Linked DNA regions of Homo sapiens: all the other regions are linked to region 5. Evidence: fine-mapped QTL for protein levels in blood plasma. A gene starts in region 5. Each other region holds a variant in brackets. All regions are shown on one strand. Distances are between the middles of the regions.

Region 1 (5,077 bases), 43 kb before region 5:
TCTTAATGTAATGCAAGAGTGCCCCCTACTGTAAAAGCTTCTAGCATTGTCTCTGAGGAAATACTGGTTTTAGTCTAAATTGTCATGTAATATAGGACAGATGACCTGATGGAGAAACCAAACACACAGTTAAAAATTCTGCCAATTAACAGTCAATGTTATGTTATTACTCAGCTGTCAGTTGTGCCTTCTGGACCTGGAAATGACTTCGTCTTTAGCTGCTTCTGTCTTCTTGATTTACATATATATATATATATATATATATATATTTTTTTTTTTTTTTTTTTCTGTAGAGCCTCACAGTATCTTCTTTCCTTCCCATCCATTCTGTCCACTCACAGACCAGTCTAACTCCGCTGACCCAGGCCCCTTCTCCCAAAGATTACAACGGCTTTCTCTTCCACTCATCGAGTGCTCCCTTCTTCACCTAGCAACTGAAAGTGTGATGTATGGACCAATGAGATTCACGTCACATGTGGGCTGGTCTGAAACACGGAATCTCTGGCCCCACCCAAGACTTACTGATTCAGAACCTCCATTTTAACAAGAGCTATAGTTTGAGCAGCTGTTGTAGAGAATCTCTGCCTCTGTCTCCAGAGTGGATCACAGAAAATGACATGAAAATTTTTTTTCCATCCATCCCTCCTCAGACTCCCTCTCCTCCCCATGGGGTGGAAATCACTTTGAAATCCATTCTGAGTGGAACTGAAAGTATTTTGCAATTTATACTCCATAGCACCTCACCAACCACTGGCTTCCATGATCTCACACAGAGCCAGGCATGGGGGATGCTGCTAATCCTTTCTCTGACTAAATGGGGAAAGTTTGGCTCAAGGTCTGTGATCACCAAATGACTTCAGGCCTTCCATTTTATGACCCCAGACCTCAAGCCACCTAGCAACTGGACTTACTGGGATTCCATAGGTGGGTAAGCATTGAGAATCTCTCCCTTCCCCAGCACTTGGGTAAGAGGAATGGTCGAAGTCTAGTTACAATGGGTTGCTATGATGTCAGGAACAAGTCGCTCAAGAATCCAGCTAGATGCCTTCGTAATCAGCTGAAGGAATTTGTTTCAAAGGATAATTAAGGACTTCCTGAGCAATACACTCTACTGTTGGAATGCCACTCAAAAACTGTAATTTGCTAGCCTTATGAAGTCTCTGACCCCACTGGGACTTCAGTGTTCCCTGGCTGCTATCCCCAAATGCATATCTTATATGTTTAAGAATTATCTCTTCTTTATGTTCCTATGCTTATCTGTACTAAAAAAAATTCCTTCTTTTACTAAACTTCCTCCAAAGTTTTACTTGGCCCTTTGAAAGCCTCATTCCATTACTTACTACAAGGAAACTCTCCCACATCTTTAACCCCTTCATTGACTGTTTCCCTGAGGTTATTATTTCAGTGAAATCTGGCTTCACCCAAAGGAAGCCACTTGCTCCAGCCCCAGCTACTGTTTGTTTTATCACACTTTGTGGGGACTTTGAGCAACACCTTCCCCTTTTGAGGTGTCTGACTTTCTCATTGCTTGTAGCTACTAAGTCACTACCACCTTGCTAAATGAGGATTTTGGCATTAGATGCAAGGTCTTGCTAACAATTTGGGTGACTTCTTCATGAATGAGTCTAACAACCTTGCCTCAAATTTCTTTGATCTTGTCAACTCCACAGGTCTACACCCGCAGACTATTTCAGCAGCTGCCCCCCACCTTCTTATGACATAACCCTGAAACTTTTCACCTGGAGCAGCTCAGTCCCTAGAATCTTAATCTCAATATACTAATCTCCGTCCACAACCTCCTATTCATCCAGGTTTTGCTCTTGCTTACTCCTTCTACAACTGTTGTTCAACTTAATCAAGACCTCAGCTTTATCCAGACCCTGTAGTGCAGTGTTTTCCACAAGAACTCTTAGTGATAATGGAAATGCTCTGTCTCTGTGCTGAACAATATGATAGCCACCAGCCCCTGTGGCTATTGAGCAATTGATACATAGCTAGTATGACTGAGAAGATGAATTTTTAATCTTATTTAATTTTAATTAATTGAAATTTAAGTAGTCACATATGGCTAGTGGTTATTATATTGGACAATGCAACAATAGTATGTCTTTGTAATTATTCCTTTCCACAACTTCAATAAACACACCCCTTTGTCTCTATAAAATTTACCCTGGGGACACTCTACTTTTGGTCTACATATCTGTTCTTACAACTGGGCAATTGAGCAGTTCTGGAGGAAATTATTCAGTTGTGCGGACTGGTGACATTCCAAATCTGCAGTGTCCTGTCTCACTTCACTCGGCCTCCAGGCTATTCACCTGGTTCACCTCCATTACTTCAAACACAAACCTTGTGCTACTGCTTTTAGTTTCTCTTTCCCTTGGAGTCAAACTCCCTGAAAGAGTAAGCAGCAATTGCTGCCTTTATTCCCAGCCTCCCACCCCCACCTCTCTACTGAAACTCCCTGACAAAGGTTGTTGGTGACTTCACACCATGGCCAAGGCTTGAGCTCTTTTCAGATCTCAACTCATTTGACCGCTGTGTCAAATGCAAGTGTTGGCATCTCTCCTCATTGAAATGCTCTATTCTTTCCCAATCTCTGATTTCCTTGTTAATTTTCTCAAATCACTCTTTAATTTTGGTAACCTTGAGTGCATGTTCTTGGTCTTCTTATTCTCCATACTTTCCTGGTTTTTCTCCT[C/A]TAGCCCCACGGATTCAACTGTCAAGTAAAAGCTAATAACTCCCAGGTGCTTATTGCCAGCCTATAACTTTCACTAGAGTTTCAGATACCTGTATTCAACTTCCTGCTGGATGTCTCTATCTAGATAGCAACAGGTACTGTCTTCCTCCCCTTCAGCCTTCCTCTACTCTATCTCAAGGAATGCTCCCCTGTCTGGGAATGACCAGACAACCCTCTTCTGTCTACAATCATCTAAATCATCTGTATAACCAAGATGAATCATTTGTGTACCCAAAATACCCAACAGAGGCTCTACACAAGTGTGTCTGAGGAGATCTAGAACTACTACAGCCAGAGCTGAACTCCAATATGTTAAGAAAAGGGTAGAGGAGACTAATGTAATTGTCTCCTAACTCATCTGCCTGCTCCGTCCTTGTCCCCGGGTCTAGTTTCTCAAGCCAAAATGATCCCTTAAAAATACAGCTCCAATCACATAATCCTCCTGTTCAGAAGCCTCTGATGCCTTCCACCAAACTGAAAAATATATCCAGATCCCTTCCCCTCACACTGAGAACTACATCCAAAGTCCTTCCCCTGGCCTTACAAGACCTCATGTAATTGGGTCCCCAGTACCTATCAGGCCTCTTTCCCCTGCTTACTCTCCCCAGCCACACTGCCTCCCTTGACATTCCTCCAAAAGATCACACACTCTGTCTCAAGTCCTCTTCTCATGTTGTTCCCTCTGTCCAGAAGGTTCTTCCTCCAGACAGTCTCATAGCTTCTCCTTCACTTCATGTAGGTCTTTCATTAAATGCTACCTCCCAGGGAGATTTCTCTAACCATTCTATTGAAGATAGCATCCTGGGCATTCTGTCCCTCATGCTGACTTATATTTATTGTGGTACTTATCATGACATGACATGACACGGTATGTTTGGTTATTGTCTGTCTCTCCTGAGATGTCTGGGTTCTGATTAAAAATCTATGTGTGATTTTTCAGACCTGACCACAGGCAATTAAAGAGGCTTAATCTGACAAGCCTTGCTGAGGAAGTTGCCCTTTCTACAGCAGACTTGGTGCACAGTCAGTGCATGGCAGTCTCTGAAGGGGGCTGCAATCAAGATCTCAGCCTCCCGCCAGTCATGCTTTTTCACATACTTGCAATCTTAGCCCAGGCACCCTCATTCTTAGGTCTCTTTATCTGAGGCTCTGGGGTGAGGTCTTCAGGCACCTCTGCTGAAGCCTCCTCATCATAGAGAAGACACTTTTCTCCACTCGGACTCAGTACCTAGCACTTTTCCACTCCCTGCCTTGAAGACACTGTTTTCCACTCTGACTCAGTACCTAGTATTTTTTCCACTCCTAGCCCTAAAGACACTATTCCCCACGCTAACTCAGTACTTTGTACTTTTCCACTCCTAGCCCTCTCACCTCATTTTCCTCATGAATTCTCCCCACCCTTGGATTCCTCCACCCCCAGGTCCATAAAACTGCTAGAGCCTTTCATTTGGGGCTTCTTCAATGGTAAGGCGACCCCCTAAGTCTGCACTGATTACCTGACCCTCGACTGGTATACTCACTCTATGTGGGGAAATGGAACAGGCAGAGTCTGCCCTTCCTCCCATTTTAGCCTCTTGATTATACCGTCGTAGTAAGAGATTAAAAGCTGAACTATTTTATTTTTGTTTTGCTGCTATAATTGGCTCCTCTGACACCTGACAACTCAGCTCTCTCTCTCCCAGCTCAGCTGAGCACCTGACATCTCCCATTAGAATAAGCTCCATGACAGCAGGGGCTTTGTCACTTTTCCTCACTGTGACATTTCCAGTACCTGCAATTGTCCCTTACAAATATGAAGCACTCAATAAGTAATTGTTGAAGAAAGGAAAGGAAAAATCTCAAGAATAACTAGGGAAATGCAATTTAAACCTCAGTGAGAAACCATTCTTTTTGCCCATTTGATTGGCACGTATTAAAAAAAATACTGGTAATACCCAGTGTCCGCGAGAGTGTTAGGAAAATGGGTCCTAACTGCTGAATTTACTGCTGGTAAAATTCTAAATTGGTACAACCTTTTTGGAGGACAGTTGGTAATATGTAAGAAAATTAATTATGGGCTTAAGCATTGACTTAGCAACTCAATTTCTTAAGAATTCATTCTACAAAAAGATACATGTGCACAAAATTAGAGGTACACAGGTATTCATTGTTTATAAGAACAATACACTGGAAATAAGTTAAATGGTTTAACAAATAATGATACATCCATACAAAGTAATGCCATGTAGCTGTGAAACAGAAAGCTATAGGGCAGTACACTATTATAACTAATAGCATGGATTCTGGACAGCGTGAGTTCAATCTCAGCTCAACTACTCACTGCCTGTGTTACCATAG
Region 2 (5,066 bases), 53 kb before region 5:
GGCTCATGGCTTCCTCCTTCCATCTTCAAAGCTAGAAATGCTGGGTTGAGCTTCTCAAGTTTCAGATCTCTCCTTCTTCCAGTTCATTTCTCCATCCCAGCTAGGAAAGGTTCTCTGACTCATGTGATTACATTGGGCCCACCTGGATAATCCAGGTTAATCTCACCATCTCAAGCTTGGTGCCTTAATCACCTATGTGAAGTTCCTTTTGCCATGTAAGATAACATATTACAGGTTCTGGAGTATAGGAGGTGGACGTCTTGTGGGGGGCATTATTTTACCTATCACATAGCCAATGCCAGGAGTACCCACAAAGCAATGGCAGATATTGCTGAAGTTACAGAATCCAAATTTACAAATATATCATATCTATAATGGCATAGTTATACCTGTTGCACCTCCCTCCCTACAGTGATAGCAAGGCTTCTCTCTTTGATCAAACTCAGTGGCATGGATGACTGTCTGAATAAATAACTTTTTCTTACCAATATTCTTCATTACATTCTTAGGGGTCATGTATGTGCCACTCAGCCCAATCTGACCATCTCATCTGTACCTACAGAGCTTATTTAACCACCTTCTAACTTCTCTCATGTGAACACACATATCCTCTTTATCTCCCCTATCTAGTCTCCTGATTTTTTTCTGATTGCCTCATGGAGGAAGAAACATCCTTAATCTTTTTCTCCAACCCTTCTTTGTTTCATTTGTAAGCTGATCATTCTAATGTGAAGAAAAATCTAGCAAACAGCTTATTCCCAAGATGTAAGTCACTTCTTCATATTTGACTAATTTTAAATGGCAATGAGGTTGAAAGAAAGTGAAGCTCAAAACTCTCACCTTGAAAAGTCAAAGCCTGGACAAGCATGATATGTCTTTACATCTGTGCTAGGAATTTTATACTTTTATATCATAGAAATCTCGCAGCACACTCCATACATTGGCAGTTTGAATGGCTCTGCCACATGCTTTGTGTTAATTTATTTAAATTCGATCGTTGCTCCCCAATTTCTTATTTTTAAAGTACAGCAGGATGCATTGAATGACTGCTAATGTCATCCATCTATTTTCTAGTTAGATTTTAAAATCAGTATACTGAAAAACAAGATGCTGGCCAGAGGCAATACTCATCTTGTGCTTTCTACCATAAGTGAGTTAGAAGGTTACCTTAATTATTAGCACCAATCAAACTAATTACTACTGGAGGCAATTACTGAGATAAAGTCCAATCTTAGCTTAGAACCAGACCAAACTACAAAAAGGCATGGCATTATTATAAAGTTAGGGACCACTTTGTCCCCATGAAACATTTTTATAACAGAAGTCAGTGGGGAGGGTGTTTATAATAACAAAACTATTGGACTAACTCAAGTGTCCAAAAAATGAGGTTGGTTAAATAAATAAATTATGGTGTATCCACAAAAGGGAATATCTTGCAGCCATTAAAAATGATGCTGTAGAATGATATTTATGACATTGAAAATTGTCTTGCTACATTTAGTATAACAAAATTAGAACACAGTACATATATTATCCAAATTGTGAAAAATAACCCTTATGATAATCCTAATTATGGAAAACAACATAGATTGATACACAGAAAAATCTTAAAGATAGGCACCAAAAATATTTGTGTAATCATTTTTTCTTATTAGTGGAGTTATAGATTATTTTATTTTTGGTATATATGATAATGGATATGTATTACTTAGAAATTAGTTAAAGTTAATATTGTTTGTTATAAGTCAATGGGCAATAATTCATCTAACTTATTTCATAAGAAACCTAGATTTTTTTAGAGACGAGAAGCTGATTCTTGTGGTCATTTAGCAAATATCCCTGCTTAAACACCACCAGGTCCACAATCTTTAACATTTAGGAGTGGTTTCACCATTTTACTTTATGTATATGTCACAGTAACCTCATGAAGTGAGGTAGATAAAGCAAGTAATAATCAGTTTTCCCTGGAAACCAGAAGTACATTTGTAAACCAGAGGTTAGAAATGTCGCCTTTCTTTGAAGTCCAAGAGCAGCATTATCTGCTACTGCCAGTCTGTATAGGCTCAAAACTCCAAGGGAAAACCTTTTTTCCCAACAACTTCCTGACTTTTTGCCAGTCTAGGCTCAGCCAACAAGCTCCGGAAGGCAGCCAGCCGATTGGGAAGTAGGTGCAAAGTGACAGTCTGTGGGGAGGACAAGGACTCACTCACCACATTTATAAGAGTTGCGAGGCCGCTTCTTCTTCTTCCATTTCCATAGAATTAGACAGAAAACCATCACACAT[A/G]TAATAACTGTTGGAAGTACAGCTGTAATCCAAGGAATGTGGTCTGGGGGAGGCTGAGGGTCCTCAAGCTCTACAAATGACCACAAATTTTCAATCAGCCAGGAGAGTCATTTACAAAAGGTTTCTGCTAGCTGCTCTTCTCTTTATTTACCTGCCAGCCTCTCCCCAGGGCTCTAAGGCCAGAGAAGCCTGAAATCCACAATAGGAGGCCATAGAAAGTCCCAGGCTCAGGGCCTCAGCAGCGACCTAAGAATCGAGCCCATGCCTCTGGCCAAATGCCTGGACTGAGCTGCCATGCCTTCATGGAGGTGGGGATAACACCGACCATGATCAGGAAGAAGAGGGTCAGCCTGGCCCGTGATTCTGGAATCTGGGTGAGGTGTCTGTGCTGAGGCTCTGCACGTGCAGTCATTTGTGCCGTGCCTGCTATCCTGCCCCCCTCTGCAGTCAGTTCCCAGGCCCTGAAGTTCCTCTCGTGATGATTCTTCTGTCCACTATAATCTCCAGACACCTCTCACTTGGACAAATGGAACAGCTTCCACAGGCCCCTACCTCTAGTTTTCATTTGCTTGTTTGTTTAGTTTTTTCCTACTGAGGTCACAGCAGGTTTCCTCTGCATGGCTTTCAGCATATCTCATCTACTGAAAAACCTTTGATGTTTCTTCATGCCTTGAGGAACCTTCACGCCTTCAGGAACTACTTCCTTACATGAGAACTCCTAAGTTTCTGGGGAGTTGGAAAACAGGCTTTGTGGGGAAAACTTAGAACGGAGTCGCCCACTTTAAAGACATTTTTGGGAACAGTTCTGGTAGCTAATCCCAAATTTCAGGAAAATTAGGACCAGCTGATCTATTAGCTTAGCTATAATTTGTAGACACATGCCCTGTTTCTGGGATGTTAAGAAGTTGTTGGCATTGCAGGCCATATTTAATCCCTTTTGAGTCTGTCCCAGTCTATTCCACTTGAGCCAGTTTGGCACTCCCAGTAAAGGGGGTTAGGGGTTATACTTACTAACGTGGAGGCTGCTACCTTTTAACATGCAAAAAAGGCCCCTTGACTCAGGGTCTAACCTATCTCTGATCAAGCGATAGAATGGGAAACCCAGAGAGGCAAGCCCCATCTTCCTGAGGCAGCTAGAGCTGAAACATTTCTGAAGATGGGGGTACCTGTTGAAGTTTGGCAGAACAGTAGTTGAGAAGCAGCAGGAAGGTGAGCCATGATGAGGTTATAGTGGTGGCAAGCCCCTGTTAATTTGTAGACTATGGGAGCCGTAACAGAGGGCCCTGGGGCATGTCATATATGGCCATCTTGTGGCCACCAATCAAACTAATTACACATTGAAGGAGGTACTGAACTTCAGGCATAGCTTGGAGAGGCTTCTATCTGGCCAAGAGAGGATACAGGAGAAGCAACTGGGACAGGACGAGTTGGCTCCACCATTTACTGGATTCTCAGAGGCTGAAGTGTCTGAATAGGAAGAAGTCAGTAGCAGGAGATGAGATTGGCCCAGTTGTAAAGTTGGTTCATGGGGACTGGCCCCGTGGGCTGTTCACAGACCAAGTTATATCTGAACAACAAGACACTGGGAGAAAGGAGGTGACAAAGCCAGGGTATGGAGCAAGGAGTTGGATGGATGTCACTGGAGGGGGCAAGCCAAGAAATCACCGCTGGAGAAGGGGTCAAGGTAAGAAGAAGGCAGATGTGGGTGTCAAGGTCAGCACAGGCAGTGATGGGACAGGGTAGATGCAGACCACCTTTATTCCAGGAGGGAATCTTGCAGTTACAGCTTCTTAAAAGAGGAGTCAAATATAGACACATGCCCTCCTGGGTAAAGCCAGGACTTTAAAATGTCAGGCTCCTATTAGTGGCTACTGCTTAGTTTCAATCCTTTCCTCCACTGAACTTGTCCCTGAAGAATACTTGTGAACACACAAGCATTTCTGCCTCCAAGGCTTTCTTTGACATACCTCCTGCACTTACGTCAGATACAGCTGATCCACTGTGGTCCTCTCACCTGCTTAGCCCAGATACTGTCTCAAATTTTTTCAGCTACGGAAGTCACCACAGTTTTGGGAACCTGTCATCCAGAATGCCCTCCCCTCCTCACCACATTTATTAACCCCAATAATTTATTTTACATGTTACAAGGTACCCCTTCCTTTAGGAACCATTCCCTGACCCTCAGGGATCTTGCCTACCTCTGAATGCCCATAAATCTCATTACCAGTCACTTTTATTTTAAATTTAGTCAGATATTTCCATGGAATAAAATTTAGATTCCAATTCAACCTTTTAAAAATCCAGTTTTTCATGTGTGCACATTACAGGGTTCTGATTCTATTGGAAGGTCCTCAAGGGCAGAGGGGGTGTCATATCTTTTTGTTTTCACTCCTGTGACCAATAATGTCCCAAATGGTTCTATACTCACAATAAATATCATTTGTATGTCTGCATGTATGCATGGTGTGTGTGTGTGTGTGTGTGTGTGTGTGTGCAAGCGCATGTATGTGTTGTAATCAAAGAAAGAATTCTAGCCTGGAGGAATCCTGTATTTTTAAATCAAAACTTCAGAATCCTCCATCCAAAGGTAAACCAAGAGACTGAGTCAGTTTCAGGGCTAAAAGCATATTTCTTCAAGTGCAACATAGGCTCGTAGCCTCCTGGACCCTGCATCACTCAGGAGAAGCAGGAGACCTCCATCTGGGTCCTTCCTAACAGCGTCATAAAATGGCCCAGTTGGAGGTTTCCTAGCAAGTCGGGGACATTGGATGATCTGCCTTAA
Region 3 (5,077 bases), 210 kb before region 5:
AATTGTTCCTGATAAAGATTCTTAGGAGGCCTACATCAGTTAAAAATACAAGAATAATTTAAAATTTAATGGTTTCTGGATCTTTATGCCTCAATAACCCTGTTTATACTCTTAAAATCCTTACCAAAACATGCTTTCCTTCATGTAATTTACTTTGTTAACAATGCAGAGCTAAGTTCCAGCCCCAGTTTATGAAGTCAGCATTACTGTGGTTTCTTGTGTGAGAGTTTTCTGACCACTTCTCTGAGATCACTGACCTCCCTTATCTGTGCCTGTATCTAGGTACTGTGTTACTGTCCTCCACTGTCCTCTCAGGAGTTATTTTTGTCCCATTTTCTTTCTTTATTCATTTGTTTATTCAACAAGTATTTATTGAGGGACCACTACTGGCCAAGCAGGCACTGTTTTAGAAAGAAGAAATACAGTAATATTCAAGATGGACAGAGATGTCTAATAGACTCCAACCTGGTTGGCTGTGTGCACTCTCAATTATTTGCACACTATACTTTCTCTTTGTGTAAGGACCGAGGTGTCAGGACAATTGTTGAACACCCAGGGTTCAAGGCAGTGGACCAGTGTCTTCACTTGGAAACCACTGGCTGATCTGGCAGCCTCTCAGGAGCTAGAAGGCATGTGGTGCCCAGAGGGCAAAAGTCATTCTTTTAGCAACTCCTTTGGCCTCTTTGGGGAACAGATCACCTGGAGCAGATGTAGCTTTTTTACTAGCTAGATATATTACTTTAGGAAAATCATTCTGACTTCTCTGGGTCTTACCCTCCTCACCTACAAAAGAATAATACTCAAGACTAATATTTACTGCACATAGTATATAGGCACTATCCTAAGCACTCTGTGCATATTAAGTAATGGTATCCTCATAATAAACTTAACAAGTTTCATGATCTCTATTTCTCAGGTGAGAGAGAAAAGTGAGGCACAAGGACACTAAGTGACTGCCCAAGGTCATAAGGCAATTAGGTGGCAATTAAAATTTAAACCAACTCAGTCTGGCTTGAGATTCCAAACTGTTAACCATTACACTATACTACCTACTCACATGCAGGAGTGAAATTAGACATCTATTAAGTTGCCTATCTCTAGTTACAACAGGTTAACTGGTATAAAATGTAGGTTGAGAAAATGGACATATTTTAAAAATGAAATGGTAGAGATGTGTAATGCTTGTGGCAACATGAGGGGCCATAAGTGGGAAAATGGTCTAACCTGAATGACATCCTGATCTCCATGAGTAGCCAGGACTTCCCCACCTGGGGACTTTCCGTTATTTTTTTTATCAACTTTTTTGAGGTATAATTTATATACACTCATTTTAAGTGTATAGTTCTGAATTTGGGCAAATGTATATGCTTGGTAACTACCACTGCCACCTTCCCAAAAGGTTCTGTGGTGTCCCTGAAAGTCAACCTCTACCCACTTGCAGCCTTAGGCCACCACTGATCTGCTTTCTTTCTGTCAGTAGAGACAGAGTATCGCATAAATGAAATCATACACTATGTACTATTTTTTTTTAGTCAGTATTCTTTTGCTTAGCAGGACATTTTGTGACCTTTCCTCCAAGGAGTAGATCCTTCTCCGTATCCACAAATTTTATCTACCCTTCAAGACTCGTCTCAAATGATATTTTTTTTTCCTTACTTCAAATCCTAACCTGAATTGTATTGTACTATGTCCTCACAGCAGGTATATAAATAAAATCACATGAGTGTGGAATATTTTCTACTCAAAATTTGTACGTTATCCACTTATAATCAATAAATTATTATGCTTACCAAGTCATATCTCTAAGTCACCTCTTTAAACATCTTTAATATTTCTTTTGGCAGGCTGACTTGCAAGTTTTGCATTTGGGCGTTTTATTTTCTGCATAATATCTTGCCTTTAATTCACATAACAGGGAAGATGGAGATGAAAACCATTTCACTCCTAAGAGCAATGACAGGGAATCTTTAAATTGATAATGATTGATCCACAAAAAAAGCAACATAAGTTAGAAGATAATTTAGATATCTGCCCGAGAGAGAACACTCTTTTTATTATTTATTTATTTATTTTGAGACGGAGTCTCGCTCTGTTGCCCAGGCTGGAGTGCAGTGGTGCGATCTTGGCTCACTGCAATTTATGCTTTCTAGGTTCAAGCAATTCTCCTGCCTCAGCCTCCTGAGCAGCTGGGACTACAGGTGCCTGCCACCACACCCGGCTAATTTTTTGTATTTTTAGTAGAGACAGGGTTTCACCACGTTACCCAGGCTGGTCTCGAACTTCTGACCTCATGATCCACCCACTGTGGCCTCCCAAAGTGTTGAGACTATAGGTGTGAGCCACTGCCCCTGGCTTCTTTTGCTTTTAAAAAGGAACTGACAGTTCCTTTTAAAATGAAATATAAAATTTTACTTGAGATTATTATCCAATATTATATGCTTCCAAATTATTTATTTTATTTGGGGAGTAATATGAGGAAAAAGAATAAA[C/T]GAAGGGGAAGAGAAACAAAAAAAGCTAGTAGAAAGATCCAAACATAGGAGTACTGCTTGAACCTGGGAGGCGGAGTTTGCAGTGAGCCAAGATCGGGCCGCTGCATTCCAGCCTGGGTGACAGAGCAAGACTCTGCCTCAAAAAAACAAAACACAAACAAACAAAAAGATCTGAACATAGAACATAACATACAGACACAAAGAGACTTACAGGCTCACAAAGAAAACACCACCAAGAAAGACACATAGATCTAAAAGAGGGGCAAATACAGGACATGCATGCACTTAGAAGCTAACATACTCTTTTATGCCATAATATTCCCATCTTGTGGTCTTTTAGGGTATTTCCCCTAAAAGATTTTAAAGTCAAACGGTTGCTCATTATAAGCATAAATGGAAATCACCTCTTGGCACACATTCTTAGTAGCGTCAATTGAATTAAACTGAACATTAGAGACTAGAAACCCCCCCACTCTGGTCTAGGACTTCCAGCTCTTATACAGATAATGAGGGCCAGGTCACACAGATAATGAACAAGATAATGAAGTTCATTATCTTGCCCAGTTCCTGTGGTAAGAGCATGGGGAAGATCCAGGCCCAATTCCCTTCTCTAACGCCAGCCATGTTTTCTTATCTCCCTTCCATCTTCTCTGGCTGTCCTCACAATTTATCCCCCATTCCCCAACTTCCAGCAGTACCAGGAATTCCTAGAAAGATCAGCTCCATCTGACTTCCATCTTCACCATGGCTGCACGCCTGTTTTCTGACTAGTGAGTGTTGGTGTGAGGTGCAGGAGAGTAGGAAGCACACCTTGTGCATGATCATCCTGAGAGAAGAAAGAAGGTGATTTCATACTTACATGATGTTCCACTCAAACTTGATAGTGGGCACGTGACCAAAGCTTGTCCAAACAGAGCCTAGAATACCTTGGCCACAGTGATTGATTCAAGAATGGGTTGTTGGCTCAAACGGTTCCCTGCAAAGGCCTATAGGTAGTGTTGACAGGTCAAATCAACTAGACTGCTATTCACTCATTCATTCATTCAATGAATATTCCAGCGACAGGCATTCTGAACATAGTACTGAACAATACAGGCATGGTTCTGGATCTTATGAAGCTTAGAGTACAGCAAAGGAGTAGTGAAGAGAGAGCTGGGAAGGGATGTGAGGAGGGCTTGGGGGTCTCCAAGAAGAGGTCAGGAGGCAATTGTGAGTTGTATGCTCATAAATCACCTGCTAGTGCTACTTTTGAGGCATATGAGTTGACTGATAAATATTTTTTTGGGGAGAAAGAAAGGAAAAAAATTGTGATTGACCCTTATAACCAGAATTTTAACTAATAAGTGTCTATTTCAGTCAATTAAAGAGCTGTGGAAGCTTAAGCTGGGTATATAAACATCAAAAATGAGGAAGCGAGAATGATCAGAAAATGTGTTGTGGGAATACGATTTGAAAAGACTTCCAGGGGAAAGTGGATTTTGAAAACAATTTAAATGTTCCTGGTGGAAAATGACAGCAGAGATAAAAATTGATGGCCCTTCTGGTGTGGGCTATGGCCTATGCAAAGATGCTGTGCCAAAAACTAATGAGTGATTTGTGAGGAGGTGTCATGCAGGTTGGCTTATAGGGGAAGAACTGAGAGAAGGCAGACATGGAGTTCCAGCTGGAGACTTGGATTAGATTATAGGTGATAAGTTTCCATATAGATCTTAATATTGAGAATGAATGAATAATTGCTAGTTGATTTCCTGATGAAGATATAGGTCTTAATAATGAGAATGAATAATTGCTAGTTCATCTCCTGGCCAAGACCTCAAATTCTGGAACGCCCATCCAACAGCCTGGGTTCCTGAGGCTCAAAGGAGACTCACACCAAGCACTCAGGACATTTTGGCCAATTTCCCATGTCATTCCTCCCTAGAGTTCTGATCCCATTTTCCTATCTGTGCTGTCTCCTGGGGAGATTTTTCCAGACCATGTAAGAGTCAGGAGAACATATCTTTACCTGGGCCATGGTTGGGTGAAGTGTCTGTGTAGTGGACATTTTGAATGTTGGCTGCTTTGCTTCTATTTCTTCCTCCTTTTGGTAATGGCATCCTGACTTCCCACTGGAGATTCACTCCCCCCTTACTCTAAGTCTATGTAGTCTGGAGGACTGCTAGCATCAGGGATGGATCCATGACTTAGGAATGGTCAATAAATGTGGTTTCTGGAACTTTTACAGGATATCTTGGGAAGTAAGGAGATCCTAGCTTCAAGCTGCTACAGAAGCTGAAAATTGCTAACCCTGGGGAATGAAGAACAGAAAGATGAGATGAAAATACCTAGCTGTACCTGGAACACTTCTGAGATTTTTAGTGACATGACCCACTCACTACATTTCCTCTTTTTTTGTTTATGCCAATTTGGTTAGGGCTTTCTATTACACAACTAAAAGTCCCAGTTGTGACTGTAGCCTGTCATGGCTTTTTTTTTTTTCTCACAGGTCCAAGGTCTGGTCTTGACCATCTGTATTTTATTTCCTTATCTGGAAGAGGAGCCATTGAAGAGTAGAACTGCCAAGTTTCCCCCTTGAAGCCTGTTTTTCC
Region 4 (5,075 bases), 2.1 Mb after region 5:
TCTCAAAGGTTTGTGTCAACCCTGAGTCAAGCAAGTCTGCCCACACTAGTTTTATAAGAGCATGTGCTCACTTCATGTCTTTGTGTCATCATGTCTTTGTGTCACATTTTGGTAATTATTGCAACATTTCAAACATTCTCATTGTATCTGCTATGGTGATCTATGATCAGTGGTCTTTGATGTTACTATTGTAATTGTTTTGGTTTGCCACAAACCACAACAATATAAGACAGCAAACTTAATCGATCGGTGTTGTGTATGTTATGAATATTCCACCAGCTGGCCATTCCCCATCTCTCTTCCTATCCTCAGGCCTCCCTATTCCCTGAGAGACAACAATATTGAAATTAGGCCAATTAATAACTCTGCAGTTGCCTCTAAGTGTTCAAGTGAAAGGTACATTTTTCACTTTTAATCAAAAGCTAGAAATGATTAAGCTGAGCAAGGAAGGCATATCGAAATTGTGCCACACAGTTAGCCAAGTTGTGACCAGAAAGGAAAAGTTCTTAAAGGAAATTAAAGTGCTACTCCAATGAACAGATGAATGATAAGAAAGTGAAACAGCCTTATTGCTGTTACAGGGAAAGTTTTAGTGGTTTGGATAGATCAAACCAACCACAACATTCACTTGAGCCAAAGCCTAACCCAGCAAGGCCTGAACTCCCTTCAATTCTGTGAAGACAGAGAGGTGAGGAAGCTACACAAGAAAAATCTGAAGGTAGCAGAGGTTATTTCATGAGGATTAAGGGTAAAAAGCTGCACCATGCCATAAAAGTGCAAGGCAAGCAGCAAGTGCTGATGTAGAAGCTGCAGCAAGTTATCCAGAAGATCTAACTAAGATCATCGATGAAGGTGGCTACATTAAACATCAGAGTTTTAATGGAGACCAAATAGCCTTCTACTGAATTGGAAGAAGATACCGTTTAGGACTTTCATCTCTAGATTTTCTAGAGATGGAAGACTTCTTCTAGAGAGGAGAAGTGTCATTGCCTGGCTTCAAAGCTTCTAAGGACAGGTTGACTCTCTTGTGAGGGCCTAATGTAGCTGGTGACTTTTAAGTGCAAGCCACTGCTCATTTACCATTCCAGAAATCCTAGGGCCCTTAAGAATGATGCTGAATGTATTCTGCCTGTGCTGCATAAATGGAGCAACAATGAGTGGATGATAGCACATCTGTTTATAGCATGGTTCACTGAATATTTGAAGCCCACTGCTGAGACCTACTACTCCAGAGAAGAGTATTTCTTTCAAAATATTACTGCTTATGGACAGTGCAACTGGTCACCCAAAGGTTGAGAAATACATTTGTAAGGCTATAGCTGCCCTAGATAGTGATTAGTCTGATGGATCTGGGCAAAGTCAATTTTAAATCTTCTGGAAAGGATTCACCATTCTAGGTGTCACTAAGAACATTTGTGACTCAATCACATGAACAACATTTTGGAAGAAGTTGATTCCAAGCCTCATGGGTGACCTTGAGGCATTCTAGACTTCAGTGAAGGAAGTCTCTGCAGATGTTGTGGAACTAGCAAGAGAACTAGAATTAGAAGTGGAGCCTGAAGATGTGACTGAACTGCTGCAATCTCATGATGAAACATAAACAAGTTGCTTCTTTTATGGATGAGCAAAGAAAGTGGTTTCTTGAGGTGGAATCTACTAGTGGTTAAGACGCTGTGAATATTGTTGAAATGACAACAAAGGATTTAGAATATTACATAATTGTAGTTGATAAAGCAGCAGCAGGGGTTGAGAGGACTGACTCCCATTTTGAAAGTGGTTCTAATGTGGGTAAAATGCTATCAAAGAGCATCTCCTACTAGAGAAAAATCTTTCATGAAGGGAAGAGTCAGTTGATGTGGCAAACTTCATTGTCACTTTAAGAAATTACTCCAGCCACATCGTATAGCCTTCAGCAACTGCCACCCTGATCAGTCAGCAGCCATCGACATCAAGGCAAGACCCTCTGCCAGCAAAAAGATTACAACTCACTGAAGGCTTAGATGATCATTAGCATTTTTTTTTAGTAATAAAGTGTGTTTAAGTTAATGTATTACATTTATGTTTTTATACAATTCTATTATACAAGTAATAGACTACAGTATAGAGTGAACATACCTTTTATATGCACTGGGATACCAGAAAATTGGTGAGACTTGCTTTATTGTGTCTTATTGTTATGGTCTGGAACCAGTTCTGCAACATCTCTGACGTATGCCTGTATAGAATTTTTCAAATTCTACTTTTTAGAATTTAAGGTATACCTACTATTCTATTTTTCTTCCTTGGACTGTTAGAATCATAAAGCTAATAGCTTTTACCTTAAGAATTTAAATTAATTCTAAGTAACTTTTTTTTACTTTCTTATTTAAAATCCTCCTGAAATACTTCTGAGCATGATTATACTAGTTGGATAATTTATTAATTAATGTTATTTCATTAAGTTAATAATGAAAGTGATAGTATGGCCA[T/C]ATTGCTAACATTTCCTTCATGCCATCTCCATTATTTAATATAAAATCAGCTTAAATCACTAGTAGTTTTGCTAGATGCACTGATTCTGCAGAAGTATGCACCCAAGATGTTTAGTCATAGAAGGAACTGAATAGAGACCATTAGCTTTAATCATCATTGACCTTCTCAAGTCTTCACCCCAGATGTTTAGTGATAGGAGGAACTGAATAGAGACCATTAGCTTTAATCATCATTGACCTTCTCAAGTCTTCACCCCAGATGTTTAGTGATAGGAGGAACTGAATAGAGACCATTAGCTTTAATCATCATTGACCTTCTCAAGTCTTCACCCAAGATGTTTAGTGATAGAAGGAACTGAATAGAGACCATTAGCTTTAATCATCATTGACCTTCTCAAGTCGTCACCCAAGATGTTTAGTGATAGAAGGAACTGAATAGAGACCATTAGCTTTAATCATTATTGACCTTCTCTTTTACTACATCTTAGCCCACTAGCCAGGAGTGAACAGAGAGAGCATGATCAGCTGGACATGAATAGGAAGCTAACAAACAAGGAGCAACTTTAAGCTGGATGTGCAAGTGGAAACCAAAATTATTTTACTCTTACATATTGTTTCTGAAGAGAATTCCTTTAGTCCAGAAACAAACAAAAGCATGCAAATAATAAACCAAAAACATCCCCACAGTAACAGAAAACCAAAACAAACAAAAAACAGACCTGGCCTGGTGCAGTGGCTCACACCTGTAATCCCAGCACTTTGGGAGGCTGAGGTGGGCAGATCACTTGAACTCAGGAGTTCGAGACCAGCCTGGGCAACATGGTGAAAACCTGTCACTACCAAAAATTAGCCGGGCGTGGTGACATGCCCCTGTAGTCCCCGCTACTTGGGAGGATGAGGTGGGAGGATGGCTTGAGGCCAGGAGGCAGAGGTTGCAGTGAGCTGAGACTCCACCACTGCACTCCAGCTCGGTGACAGAATGAGACCCCCCCTCTCAAAACAACAACAGCAACAACAAAAAATAGAACAGACCTTGTGACAGTTTTTTTGTCTTTTTGATATAAATAGAAATTCTCTGATACAAGCAAACACCCTAATCAGAAACACATTATCATTTTTTATTTTGCCAAATGGCAAAATGCCAAAGCACATTTTGATTTCTGCCAAGAGGCCAGCAGTTTTACCCACCATTTCCTTTGTACCCTCAGTACAAATGTTAACCCAGTGAAGGTGTATTCTTATGAAAAGAGTTTTGCCCTCTGGGACATCTAGAAATGTCTAGAGGACCCAGGTGCAAAGAGTACAAAGTGTCCTCTGTAGACCACACTTTGACATCTGCTTTACCAGAGGGTAGAGAGCATAATAATGTGTATATGTATGTGTATGTAATTCTCAGAGTCTTAGTATGGCTGTGGTACATGGCATATATGAATGGACAGATGAAAAATAGTACAAAGAATATTTTGCTTGTGGTCGACCTGGGTTTGAGTGTCAGGTCACTTGAAGTAAAGTGGAGATTACTGACAGTTCTTTTCTGAGTGGCTGTGAGGCTTAAATAAAATGTTAGTGAAAATACTGTAGAAATGAAAGGTGGTATTCTTTTGTGGCATTTTTAGACTTGACTCTCCCCAAGAGCAAATTTCAGCCCCTTGTCTTTGGGTATGTCATTGGATTTTCCAGCTGCTTTACATTTTATTCAAATATATGATACTGATTATCTGTATATAAGATACTGGTGTGAGCTGTGCCAGAAACACCTAAAATAAAGGCAGTTTGATTGTTCTCAAAAAGTTAACACATCATCTCACACATTAAGGAACAGTTATATAAACAGGAGTCTTTTGAACCCTAGCAAGCCTAGGTTTGGCTTCCCATTATAAACTTAGGATACTTGCCTCTTAAGACTGTAATGTTTTTAAACAGACCCTCCCAAAAAGTATACTAATATTGTTACATTTTTAAATGTTTTTAACAGTAATGTTTGAAATGAAAGAGTAACTGTTTCTGACAAGATTATTGTCATATTTAGATACAGCCAGAGGTAAAGCTGATGTCTCTGATTATATTATCTTACTGACAAATGGCAGAATGAGAACAAAAGGCTTCCTTAGAACAAGGAATTGAACTTACAGACAGACCCTTGAAGAAGCTGTTATTCTGTGACAGTGAGACAGTTATTCAAGAGAGTGGTGTTTTGATTGGGAATTGAGAATGATTCCAGGCCTAGCTCTACTATTCAGTACCTTTACCTTGGGCAAGTCGTTTAACTTTATCATGTCTTAATTTCCTTATCTATGAAATAAGTGTGTTAAACTAGATGGTCTTGAAAGATCACTTTAACATGAACCCGAGTTAAATATGAAACAAAATGCTATTCTGGCTTTAACCCCAACTAACTAAAATTCAGTGTGCCAAAGCACTATTTCTATTTTTCCGGTACCTTCTATTTAGTTGAAGTTTTATTCTATCTGGAGAATTTCATCCATTTGTCCTTTGAAGTAAGAGCAGAAGAGATTTTAGTGTCCTCCAGAAAGTGATTGATAAGTACCTTGTTTTTACTAACTTGACTGATGTAACATGAATTGAGGGCTGCTAGTATAGTTGTCA
Region 5 (5,077 bases):
CTTGCACTAGCTCTTTGCTCCAGGCTTCATTCCTGCTCCTAAGTTGACTCTCAGTTTCCTTAACTTCACCTGCCTTTCTACCATTTGGCTTCCCACTGTCATCAGTCACTCCCTGGAGGCTGGCCTTGTCCTGGGTACTGCTTGTTTTAGATCAGCTCCTCCATCCCAAAAGCACAACTTGGGGTTGTCCTGCCAGGCACAGAGGATACTGAACATTTCTGCTGGAAAAAACCTTCCTCCATTCTGTTCTTAGTAATGCCATTAAGTGGTTGTATAATCTTGGACAAATCACTTTTCCTCTGTTTCTTAATCCAAACAGTAATAGTAATAAAAACTACTAACAATTCCTGAGTACTTAGCAGGATATGGATTATCTCATTAAAATCTCACAACTACTTTACGACATATTACCATACTCCCATTTTACAGACAAGAAACTGGGAATTACAATGGTTAAGCAACTTGTCCAAAATCACATAGCTAGGAAGTTGGGGAACTGGTATTCAAACCCCAGCAGCCTGGCTTCAATGTGCGGCCACTTAGCCACTGCACTGTCCTCCCTCTCAATATGCAACTCACCCTAGAGAGCCATGCAATCACTTCTGTAAAATAAGGGAAGAGTGCTGCAGCCTGTTCTAAATATAAAATTCTATCAGAACATGCCTTTCAAGATCTAATGAGTTATGGGTAGAGTGGGTGTATTTTGAAGAGGATTCAAGAGATGAAGAAAGATAAATGCAAAGGGCTAAAGCCCTAACTATGGAATCTCACAACTTATAAATTATCACACATCACTAGATGGTTACTTCTCTGAAAAAAACCAGCTATTGTTTTTTTTAAATCTTAAATATTTAACTTTATTTTTCTGCCTACAGATGGGATTCAAATTGAAAAGCACACAGTAGAAAATACAAACTACCTATATTTCTGATTAATATTGTTTGTATACATGTATCATGTATAAAAGTGATAGCACTGTTCGTTCTGCATTTTTCCCCTTTAACTAAACACATTATGAATTGTTCTACAGTGGAATTTTAAATAATTACATGGTATTCCATTATGGATGTTCCATAATCATCCAATCACTTGTTTTTAAACACGTAAATTGTTTCTAAGATTTTCCTTATTAGAAACAATAGCAAGAAAAATATCCATCACTAAAACTTTACAAACATGTATTATTATATCTTAGAATAAATTCCTAAAAGGTGAATTGCTTGGTTAAAGGGCATATACATTTTAAAGGCTTTTGATATGTATCACTAGATTATTGTCCAGAAAGATGATATCACCACTAGTGCGCAACTAGGGTACAAATAATCCTCCCTTCTTAGCAAGATAGAGGGTTCTTGATTGCTTGCTTTTTAAAACTTAATATTTATCTCTTTGATAGAGAAAAAATGATACTTCACTGTTGTTTTAATTTGTATTTATTTCATCTCTTATGAGAACAGACATTGTTTAATGGCTATTACTGGTTCATGACCAATCTTCAGGCACTGTGAAACAAAAGGAATCTTAACAAGTTCAATATAGACAGCAGCCTATGGTTTTTTAGACCTCTGCAGACAGTGCTAGCATAATTAAGTAGTATCCCCTCTATGGTACCACAAAAATTATAAATTTTGAAATTCTTTTTTTCTTCATACAAGTATAACGCTTCAAAATTCCACTGGAGCAAAAGGAATCTTTACTGGAAAATTAAATTTTAATCTTCTGAAATAAAAGCAACAAAGCTTTTTCTCAAACCAGTAAGCACTGGGTAGATGAAAGTTACTTCGATTTTCAAAGAACAGTAATTATAAATACATAGTGACGGCCGGGTGCGCGGTGGCTCACGCCTGTAATCCCAGCACTTTGGGAGGCCGAGGTGGCCAGATCACAAGGTCAAGAGATCGAGACCATCCTGGCCAACATGGTGGACCCCGTCTCTACCAAAAATACAAAAATTAGCCGGGCGTGGTGGTGGGCGCCTGTAGTCCCAGCTACTCAGGAGACTGAGGAAGGAGAATCGTTTGAATCCGAGAGGCGGAGGTTGCAGTGAGCTGAGATTGCGCCACTGCACTCCAGCTTGGCGACAGAGCGAGACTCTGTTTCAAAAATAAATAATTAAAAATAAATAAATACATAGTGACTGGCGCCAGCTGCCACCACCCAAGAGAAGGGCGGGTGTGACTCCTTCCAGGAAGTCTCCACAGCATGGAGAAACCTTCTGGCGCACCACGAAGCGGGCAGGAAAGATTTTAGCTCTACCCCTTATGAATAGTGTGAACTTGGGCAAGTTTTTTAAGCCACAGTTACCCCATCTGTCAAAAAGAATGATGATGTCTTTCCAAAAGTCATTGTGAAGAATAAAATTCAATGAAATAGCACTAGTAAAGTACCCAGCACATCATGCATGTTCAATACATGGTAACTAATTTAATCACTCTACCTCCTTCCACTACCCAACCCTGCCCAGAATCTCCCATGGCCTGATTATGACATATTAACTGAGTTTTGCATTTTCTCCTTATACCTCTTTTTTCTCTTTCTTTTTCTTGATCTCTCTCCCTCTACCTTCTCTATCTCATTCCTCCACCCTCAGACCAAACTGACCCTGGTAGACAAAAAACATATTCCCTGTTATTTGTCATTCTTATGCAGATATTTTAAAAATTCCTGATTCTTCACTAAAATCAATGACTGTAACATTCAGTATTTGAATAACAGATTTACAAAACCAAAATTAGGCACCTAAAAATATATATAACTACCACCAATGAACTGCTTTGGGCATTGCAAATAATTCTTGCCTTTATGTGCCAAAGATCTTTTGTAGAAAAAGAAAGCTTCTCCACTTAGGAACTAAGTGAAGGACACACATCAAAGCACCATCTTCAACCTCAGCCTTTCACTGCAGTCACAACTCATAACTTCTCTGCAAAGAATAAGAATTATTACTCACCACTGGGGATCCATTTTGGCTGCTTCTGCTGTGACCTAATATCTGGAAATGACCCCACTCATCCGTGTGTCTGTGCTAGTCCCTGTTACAGCAGCAGAGAAGCAAAGCTTTCACCCTGTGCAAGCCTTCCTCGGCAATGACTGTATACCTACCCAGCTAACTTTCTTTAAGAGAAGCTGTTCCTCTTTTCTCTACAGATTTTGACCACACTTGAGGAAGAAATTTAACCCTTTCCTTGCAGTTTAAACTCATTGACGTAGGTCTATATGTATTAAAGAATATATAATTCAGTAGCTTGAGTTCCAGACATGACGTTAAGATGAGCCTGAATAAAAAATCTCCCCTCTTGAAATTCCCTCAAAAAACCTAGAAAATAAAATAATTAGAAAGAGAAAACAAACCTCCGCAGCAACAAAATAGAATAAAGAGGCATTCTACAGATTTTGATAAGATAATAAAAAGTGATTTATTGTGGATGTGGATTGGGAGTGAGTAGCCACCTAACCCTGCCAATTTCCACAACCAAAGTGTGGAGAGTTTCACTGAGCTGGGGTGGGGGGATGGGAGATGGGGAGATGTTCTGTAAGGACTGCATAACCAAGGAGGGCAGACAGAAGCTACTGCTTTTATTATTTCATTCCTACTATAGCCAAGGATTACATTGATGAAAGCGAATATTCTGAAACAGAAGTCTGAAAAAAAGGCAGCATTATAAAATTAATAGATGTCCCTAAGAGACAAACATAGAATTAATCAAGCAGAAACTATACTAGAAGATATTTCCTCGTATGAATTAAAATGGGCATCATCTAGAAACTCAAACTGTTTAGTGTATCAAAGCAAAAGTTATGAAAATCGATTCTCATCCAGACAAATCATTTTGAACATTTTAAATTCCAAAGGCAAAGCTAAAAACAAAATGAAAACAGAATGACTACAGAGAAACAAAAAACAACTTGGCATCTTACTCAACCCTAAATGGCAAAAAACAACAGAACAATATCTGCAGAATTTTGAATTAGCATTATCTACCTAGATAAGATGCCAGTTAAGTGTCAAGTCAATAGAAATATGTCACCAAGCAGGCAAGAAAACAACAACTGCAACAGAAATACCACCACCAAGACAGCCTTCCTAAATAAATTATTTAAGGATATATTCCAGAATAATAAATGAATTAAAATAGCCTTAAAATGGAGAAGCCATGGCTGAAAACACCAGTGCTGAGCTTTAAAGCAAGTTAAACATGGAGAAATAAGGCTAAATAATTATAAATTAGTTTAGACCAAAATGCTAAATAAGAAAAACTTATTAGAAGTAGATTACATATATTATTTCAAGGAAGTTTAAAAATAGCAGATGACATCACTGCTAACTAGAGCAAGGAAGCAAAATCAACACAATTATTAATCTTCAAATAAGAAGATAGAACAATGATTATTTTATCAACTTTGATAATTTCATCTGGATTTGAGAATTTTAAAAAATGAAGACAGCAATAATATAAGTTATCTATCTTCAAAATTATTGCAGAGCAGGAGTGCAAATAAAATAGTATTTATAACTACATAACACATCAGAAATAAGATGAGATAAAAAAATCCATGTAAACCTCATTTGTTATAAATATTAAATATTAAAGGTATGGGATGTCATTTTTCAGTTTCTTGGTAGCAGTGTACACACTCAAATTTCCATTTCTTGGTATCAATGCATACACTCAAATTTTTATTTAAGATAGCATAAGCATTTTCTCCTGTTATCATAAACTTTTTAGTAGTCATTAAATAGTACATTAATAGTACATCAAGTATACACTGTGAAAGCTGGCTGTAATGGCACATACCTGTAATCCTGGCTACTCAGGAGGCTGAGGTGGGAAGATTGCTTGAACCCAGGAGTTTGAGAACATCTTGGGCAACATAATGAGACCTTGTCTCATACACACAAAAAAGGTATATATTGTAGTAAAATTATCTTCCTAATATCAGACAGTTTTAGCTTTTAGTATTTTTATATTACAATTTTCTAATTAATATATTTAGTATATACATTTAGGAGTTTTTAGTATTTATTAGTTATCCATTGCTGTATAACAAATTATCTCAAAATTTATTTCCTTAAAAC
Region 6 (5,077 bases), 400 kb after region 5:
GATTCCCTCTCGTTAGTGTGGGCTAAGTCAGTCTTTAACATCTGATGGGAATCACCATGGTCCTTGGAAAGGAGAGGGAAATTGGAGAGGAGAACAGTAGCTGTAGATGCTAACACTGACAGATCCCAAAATGAAAAAACAAAAAACAAACAAACAAAACAAAACAGTAGCTGTAGAGCTGAGACGACTAAAAGCAGGAAAAGGAAGTGGTTGCAGTTCTTACTAATCTTACTACCTTCCCCACACCGTGATGTCTCTTTTTAGGTCTGTCTTGAATAAATTTAGTTTGGATAGTAATTTGGTAATTCAGTGAATAATTCAAATGGTCCTATGCATCCCTTATCCATTCTGTAAAGGAACTGCCTGGTTTTCAAGAACTATCACCCTTCTCTCCACCTTCTTTTCTCCACTCTTGCCCATTCATTCTCAAGACTCAAGGGTGTCTTTTCCCTTGACCTGTTTGTTTATTTTCAAATCTGTCACAGACTGATACTTTTGTAAAATAAAATACAATTAAGTTTCTGGAAAAATAAATGGTTAAAAATAACATAGACAATACAAACACAGTTTTTATTTTTAAATTCAACAGATATAAAATCACGATGTTGTCAGGCATGCTAGTCTGTGCCTATAGACCCAACTACTCAGGAGGCTGAGGCAGGAGGATCACTTGAGTCCAGTAGTTCTGGGCTATAGTGCTCTATGCTGATTGGGTCTCCACGCTGAATTCTGAATCAATATAGTGACCTCCCACCTCCCAGGAGCAGGGGACCATAGGTTGCCTAAGAAGGGGTGAACTTGCCCAGGTCAGAAATGGAGCAGGTCAAAACTCCAGTGCTGATCAGTAGTGGGATTGTGTCTGTGAGTAGCCACTGTACTCCAGCCTGGGCAACAGTGAGACCCCATTTCTAAAAAAGAAAAAGAAAAAGAATAAAATCACTATGTCAAATTGCTATAAAAGTTTCTAAACACATATTCTCAATTTTTATTCTTATTTCCCTGTGAAACAGAAACAGTTCAGCTTGTGGACCACACACTGAGTGGCACTGCTCTGGAATAATCTTTCAGCACTTCCTGGAACCAGTCTGGCCTTTAGATTAAATCTTTACTGAGCTATAACCATAGGATGTCTGCCTCAGTGGCCCTGTCCTCTTCTCGTGCCCTGACATTTTATAGCAAGTGGAAATAAAGAATGGTGTAATGCCAAGAGTATAGAAATAGAATTCTGGAGCTCTAGGGACTGATTCCAGCTCTGCTGTAAAAAGGCTTATGATGCTGAGGAGAGTAATAATATTTTACCATCCTATCTTGATTTCCAGCGCTGACTGGAGATTATAGTACCATCCCTGTTTACCTCACAGGGGTACTGGGAAGAGCCATGGCTATAACTTAAGAATAATGACTAACATTTATTAAGCTATTATATGTCTTGCAAAACACAGAGTACTTTTTAAAAACAATCCTATATCATAGATGACGTTGGCATCCTGATTTCACAGAAAAGTGAATGGATATATTAATGTTTAGCAATTTGTCCGAGGATACAGAGATACAGGTTGAGCATCCCTAATCCAAAAATTCAAAATCTAAAATGTTCCAAAATCTGAAATTTTTGAAAGCCCACATGATACCACAAGTAGAAAATTCCACACCTGACTACATGTGATGGGTCTCAGTCAAAATACAGGTGCACAACAGTTTTTTCAGCGTCCCCAAGGGAAAAATAAAGTTACCTTCATTTATTTAGTTCTTCTTTAATACCTTCCTTAATATAGTGTATATGACACATAAATGAATTTCCTGTTTACACATGGGTCTCGTCCCCAAGATATCTCATTATGTATATGCAAATATTCCAAAACCTGAAAAAATCCTGAATCCAAAACACTTCTGGTCCCAAGCGTTTGGGATGAGGGATAGTCAACCTGTAGTAATTTGAATTCGGCTCAGTCTGACTCCATGGGCTGAAATCTTAACCAATATATTGTTTTTGTCTAATAAACATAATATCGTCATGTCCGTAATTCTTTTGTTGAAATGAAATGCAAATTCCCATGAACTAAGCTATTGCCAATTCCCTAAGGCTGCTTGCTATTCTGTTTACAGTGACAAAGTACTTGATAAGTTGGCCTTAATAATACTACAATCACTTCATAAACAAACCTCTTTATGAGTGCCCAAAGTCTCTTTCATTTAAGGTTTTCTTCACTTTATTATTTTTCAAAAATTAACTTTGTTTTTTTTGAGACGGAGTTTCGCTCTGTCATCCAGGCTGGAGTGCAGTGGTACGATCTCGGCTCACTGAAACCTCCGCCTCTGCCTCCCAGCTTCAAGTGATTCTCCTACCTCAGCTTCCCGAGTAGCTGGGATTACAGGCATGTGCCACCTTGCCCAGCTAATTTGTGTATTTTTAGTAGAGACGGGGTTTAACCATGTTGGCCAGACTGGTCTTGAACTCCTGACCTCAAGTGATCCGCCTGCCTCGGCCTCCTACAGTGCTGGGATTACAGGTGTAAGCCACCATTGCCCAGGCAAAAATTAAATTTATTGATACCTAATCATTATAAGCAAATAGTTCAATGAGTTTTGACTATATATATATAATATAACCACCAATGCAATCAAGATATAGAATATATCTATTACCATGAAAATTTCCCTGCACCTCTTTGCAGTCAATACACCCCATACTGATCTTTTTGTCACTATAGATTAGTTTTGTCTGGCAT[A/T]GAATTTCATGCAAACAGAATAATATAGAATGTATTGTTTTGTGTTGTCTTCTTTCAGCATAATGTTTTCCAGATTTATCCATGGTGTTGTGTATATAAGTCTTTTGTTCTTTTATATTGTCATGTAGTGTCCCATTGTATGGATATGTCACAGTTTTATTATTCATTATCCTGTCAATAGCCATTTGGATTATTGACAATTTGGATCTATTACAAATGAAACTGTCATGGGCATTTGGGTACAAATCTTTTTGTTGACATATCCTTATTTCTCTTGGAAAATTGCCAGGAGTAGAATTGCTGAGTCATATAATAAGTGTATGTTAAACATTTTGAGAGACTCTCAAACTCTTTTCCAAAGGGAATTTACCCTCTTTCATTCCTACCAGTAATGTGTGGGTTTCAGATGCTCCACATTTTTGTCAACATTTGTTATTGTTAGTATTTTTAAATTTAGCTGGGTGCAGTGGCTCATGCCTGTAATCCCAGCACTTTAGGAGGCCAAGGCAGGAGGATGACTTGAGCCCAGGAGTTCAAGACCATCTGGACAATGTGGAGAGATTCAGAGTCTACAAAAAAATTAAAAATTGGCTGGCTGTGGTCTGAGCTATTCAGGAGGCTGAGGCAGGAGAAGCACTTGAGCCCAGGGGGTTGAGGCTGCAGTGAGCCATGTTTGCCCCACTGCACTCCAGCCTGGGTGACAGACTGAGATCCTCTCTAAAAGACAAACAAAACAAAACAACAACAACAACAACAAAACCAACTTAACCACTCTTTTAAGTTAATTTGAATTTCTCTGATGACCAGTTTTATTGAGTATATTTTCATTTGCCATTCATATATCTTCATATATCTTCTTTATGAAGTATCTGTTCACATCTTTTTCTCACTTTTAAAGTGAGTTGTTTGTCTTTTTATTAAGTTGCTGAAAGTTCTTTATATATTCTGGATGTAAGTCTTTTGTGAAATATGTGTTTTACAAGTGTATTCTCCCAGAACATAACTTGCTTTTTCACTTTATTGATTGATTGATTGATTATTTATTGATTGATTGCTCTGTTGCCCAGGCTGGAGTGCAGTGACATGATCTCAGCTCACTGCAACCTCTGCCTCCTGGGTTCAAGCGATTCTGCTGCTTCAGCCTCCTGAGTAGCTGGGACTCAGGCGCCCACCACCAAGCCCAGCTAATTTTTGTATTTTTGGTAGAGACGGGGTTTCACCATAGTGGCTAGGCTGGTCTTGAGCTCCTGACCTTGTGATCCACCCGCCTTGACCTCCCAAAGTGCTGAGATTACAGGCGTGAGCCACCACACCTGGCCACTTTTTCATTTTATTAATGGCATCTTTTTAAGAGCAAAAGATCTTAATCCTGATGATGTCTAATTTATTGAAAAAAAATTTATGGGGCTAATGCTTTATGTGTCTAAGAAATATTTACCTACCCCAAAGTTGTGAAGACTTTCTTTGATGTTTTGTCCTAAAGGACTGACAGTTTTAGCTTTTACATTTAAGTCTATGACCCATTTCAAGTAGACTTTTCTGTGCAGTGTGAGGTCAAGATTGAGGTTCATTTTTCTCCATGTGATTATTTAGTTGTTCAACAATATTAAAAGAGTATTCTGTTCCCATTGACTTACCTGGCATCTTTGACCACATACATGTGGGTCTATTTCTGGACTCTATTCTGTTCTGTTGATCTATTTTCTACCCTGACAGCATACCATACTGCACTGATTATTGTAGCTTTATAAGTCAAGAAATTATGTAGTCCTCAACTTTGCTCTCCTTAAAAAAAAAAAAAGAAACAAAAGATTTTACTATTCCAGGACTTTACATTTTCACATAAATTTTATAATTCACTAGTCAATTCCTACAAGAATGCCTGTTCAGATTTTGATTGGGATTGCATTGAATCTATAGATCATTTTAGGGAGAACTGACATCTTAATGATATTGAGTTTTCCAATCCATGAACATGGGATATCTCTCCATTTATTTAGATCTTCTTTAATATTTTCAGAAATATTTTTTAGTGTTTAGGTCTTGCACATACTTTGTTAAGTTTATCCTAAAATGTTTCATGTTATTTCATGTATTTATATTTAACTTCCAGTTTCCAAATGTTTATGGCCAGTATGTAAAAATACAATTGATTTTGATATAATGACCTTGTATCCTGTGACCTAGCCAAATGCACAATGCTTTAGTAGCTTTTTTTGTGTGAATTCTTTAGGATTTTCTACATACATGATCAGGTCATCTGTGAATAAAAACCTTATATTCTGAGTCACTCACATTTGTGCTTTTAGTTTTGTAATAAAAAACAAACACAGATTGAGGAATGAGTC

Which allele goes with the higher level. Positions count from the first base shown, and alleles are read on the strand shown. Strength reflects both the effect of a copy and how common the allele is. Not every link is listed here.
For the plasma level of the protein whose gene starts at base 3,092 in region 5, T is the high allele of the variant in region 3 and C is the other (weak association).
With allele C in place of T in region 4, the plasma level of the protein whose gene starts at base 3,092 in region 5 is higher (weak association).
With allele A in place of T in region 6, the plasma level of the protein whose gene starts at base 3,092 in region 5 is higher (weak association).

What was found. PIP is the chance, under the fine-mapping model, that this variant and not a neighbour inherited with it causes the effect. The UK Biobank Pharma Proteomics Project read protein levels with antibody pairs (Olink). The fine-mapping took linkage between variants from a reference panel, not from the people measured, so its PIPs are less certain.
Region 1: its variant is fine-mapped to the plasma level of the CD86 protein (UK Biobank, PIP above 0.99).
Region 2: its variant is fine-mapped to the plasma level of the CD86 protein (UK Biobank, PIP above 0.99). The variant lies in the coding sequence of CD86. If it changes the protein, the assay may bind it differently, which can mimic a change of level.
Region 3: its variant is fine-mapped to the plasma level of the CD86 protein (UK Biobank, PIP above 0.99).
Region 4: its variant is fine-mapped to the plasma level of the CD86 protein (UK Biobank, PIP above 0.99).
Region 6: its variant is fine-mapped to the plasma level of the CD86 protein (UK Biobank, PIP above 0.99).

What each region holds. Positions count from the first base shown.
Region 1 is chr3:122,096,706-122,101,782 of GRCh38, reverse strand. All of the region lies in intron 2 of CD86 (CD86 molecule), which reads right to left. Among named protein-coding and RNA genes, the nearest start is that of CD86, 44 kb to the right of the region's middle. RefSeq lists an enhancer at 534-723. The variant C/A (reference allele first, on the strand shown) is at 2,702.
Region 2 is chr3:122,106,553-122,111,618 of GRCh38, reverse strand. CD86 (CD86 molecule) reads right to left here. Exons shown (of 7, transcript NM_175862.5): 5 at 2,211-2,354. Among named protein-coding and RNA genes, the nearest start is that of CD86, 54 kb to the right of the region's middle. The variant A/G (reference allele first, on the strand shown) is at 2,285.
Region 3 is chr3:122,264,000-122,269,076 of GRCh38, reverse strand. All of the region lies in intron 4 of CASR (calcium sensing receptor), which reads right to left. Among named protein-coding and RNA genes, the nearest start is that of CSTA, 59 kb to the left of the region's middle. RefSeq lists a silencer at 3,889-3,990. The variant C/T (reference allele first, on the strand shown) is at 2,490.
Region 4 is chr3:119,907,425-119,912,499 of GRCh38, reverse strand. All of the region lies in intron 6 of GSK3B (glycogen synthase kinase 3 beta), which reads left to right. Among named protein-coding and RNA genes, the nearest start is that of NR1I2, 130 kb to the right of the region's middle. The variant T/C (reference allele first, on the strand shown) is at 2,469.
Region 5 is chr3:122,053,377-122,058,453 of GRCh38, reverse strand. It overlaps CD86 (CD86 molecule), which reads right to left and starts at 3,092. Exons shown (of 7, transcript NM_175862.5): 1 at 2,951-3,092. The coding sequence starts at 2,964. It also overlaps a transcript of ILDR1 not described here.
Region 6 is chr3:121,649,827-121,654,903 of GRCh38, reverse strand. All of the region lies in intron 3 of HCLS1 (hematopoietic cell-specific Lyn substrate 1), which reads left to right. It also overlaps the pseudogene RN7SL172P. Among named protein-coding and RNA genes, the nearest start is that of HCLS1, 8.5 kb to the left of the region's middle. The variant A/T (reference allele first, on the strand shown) is at 2,730.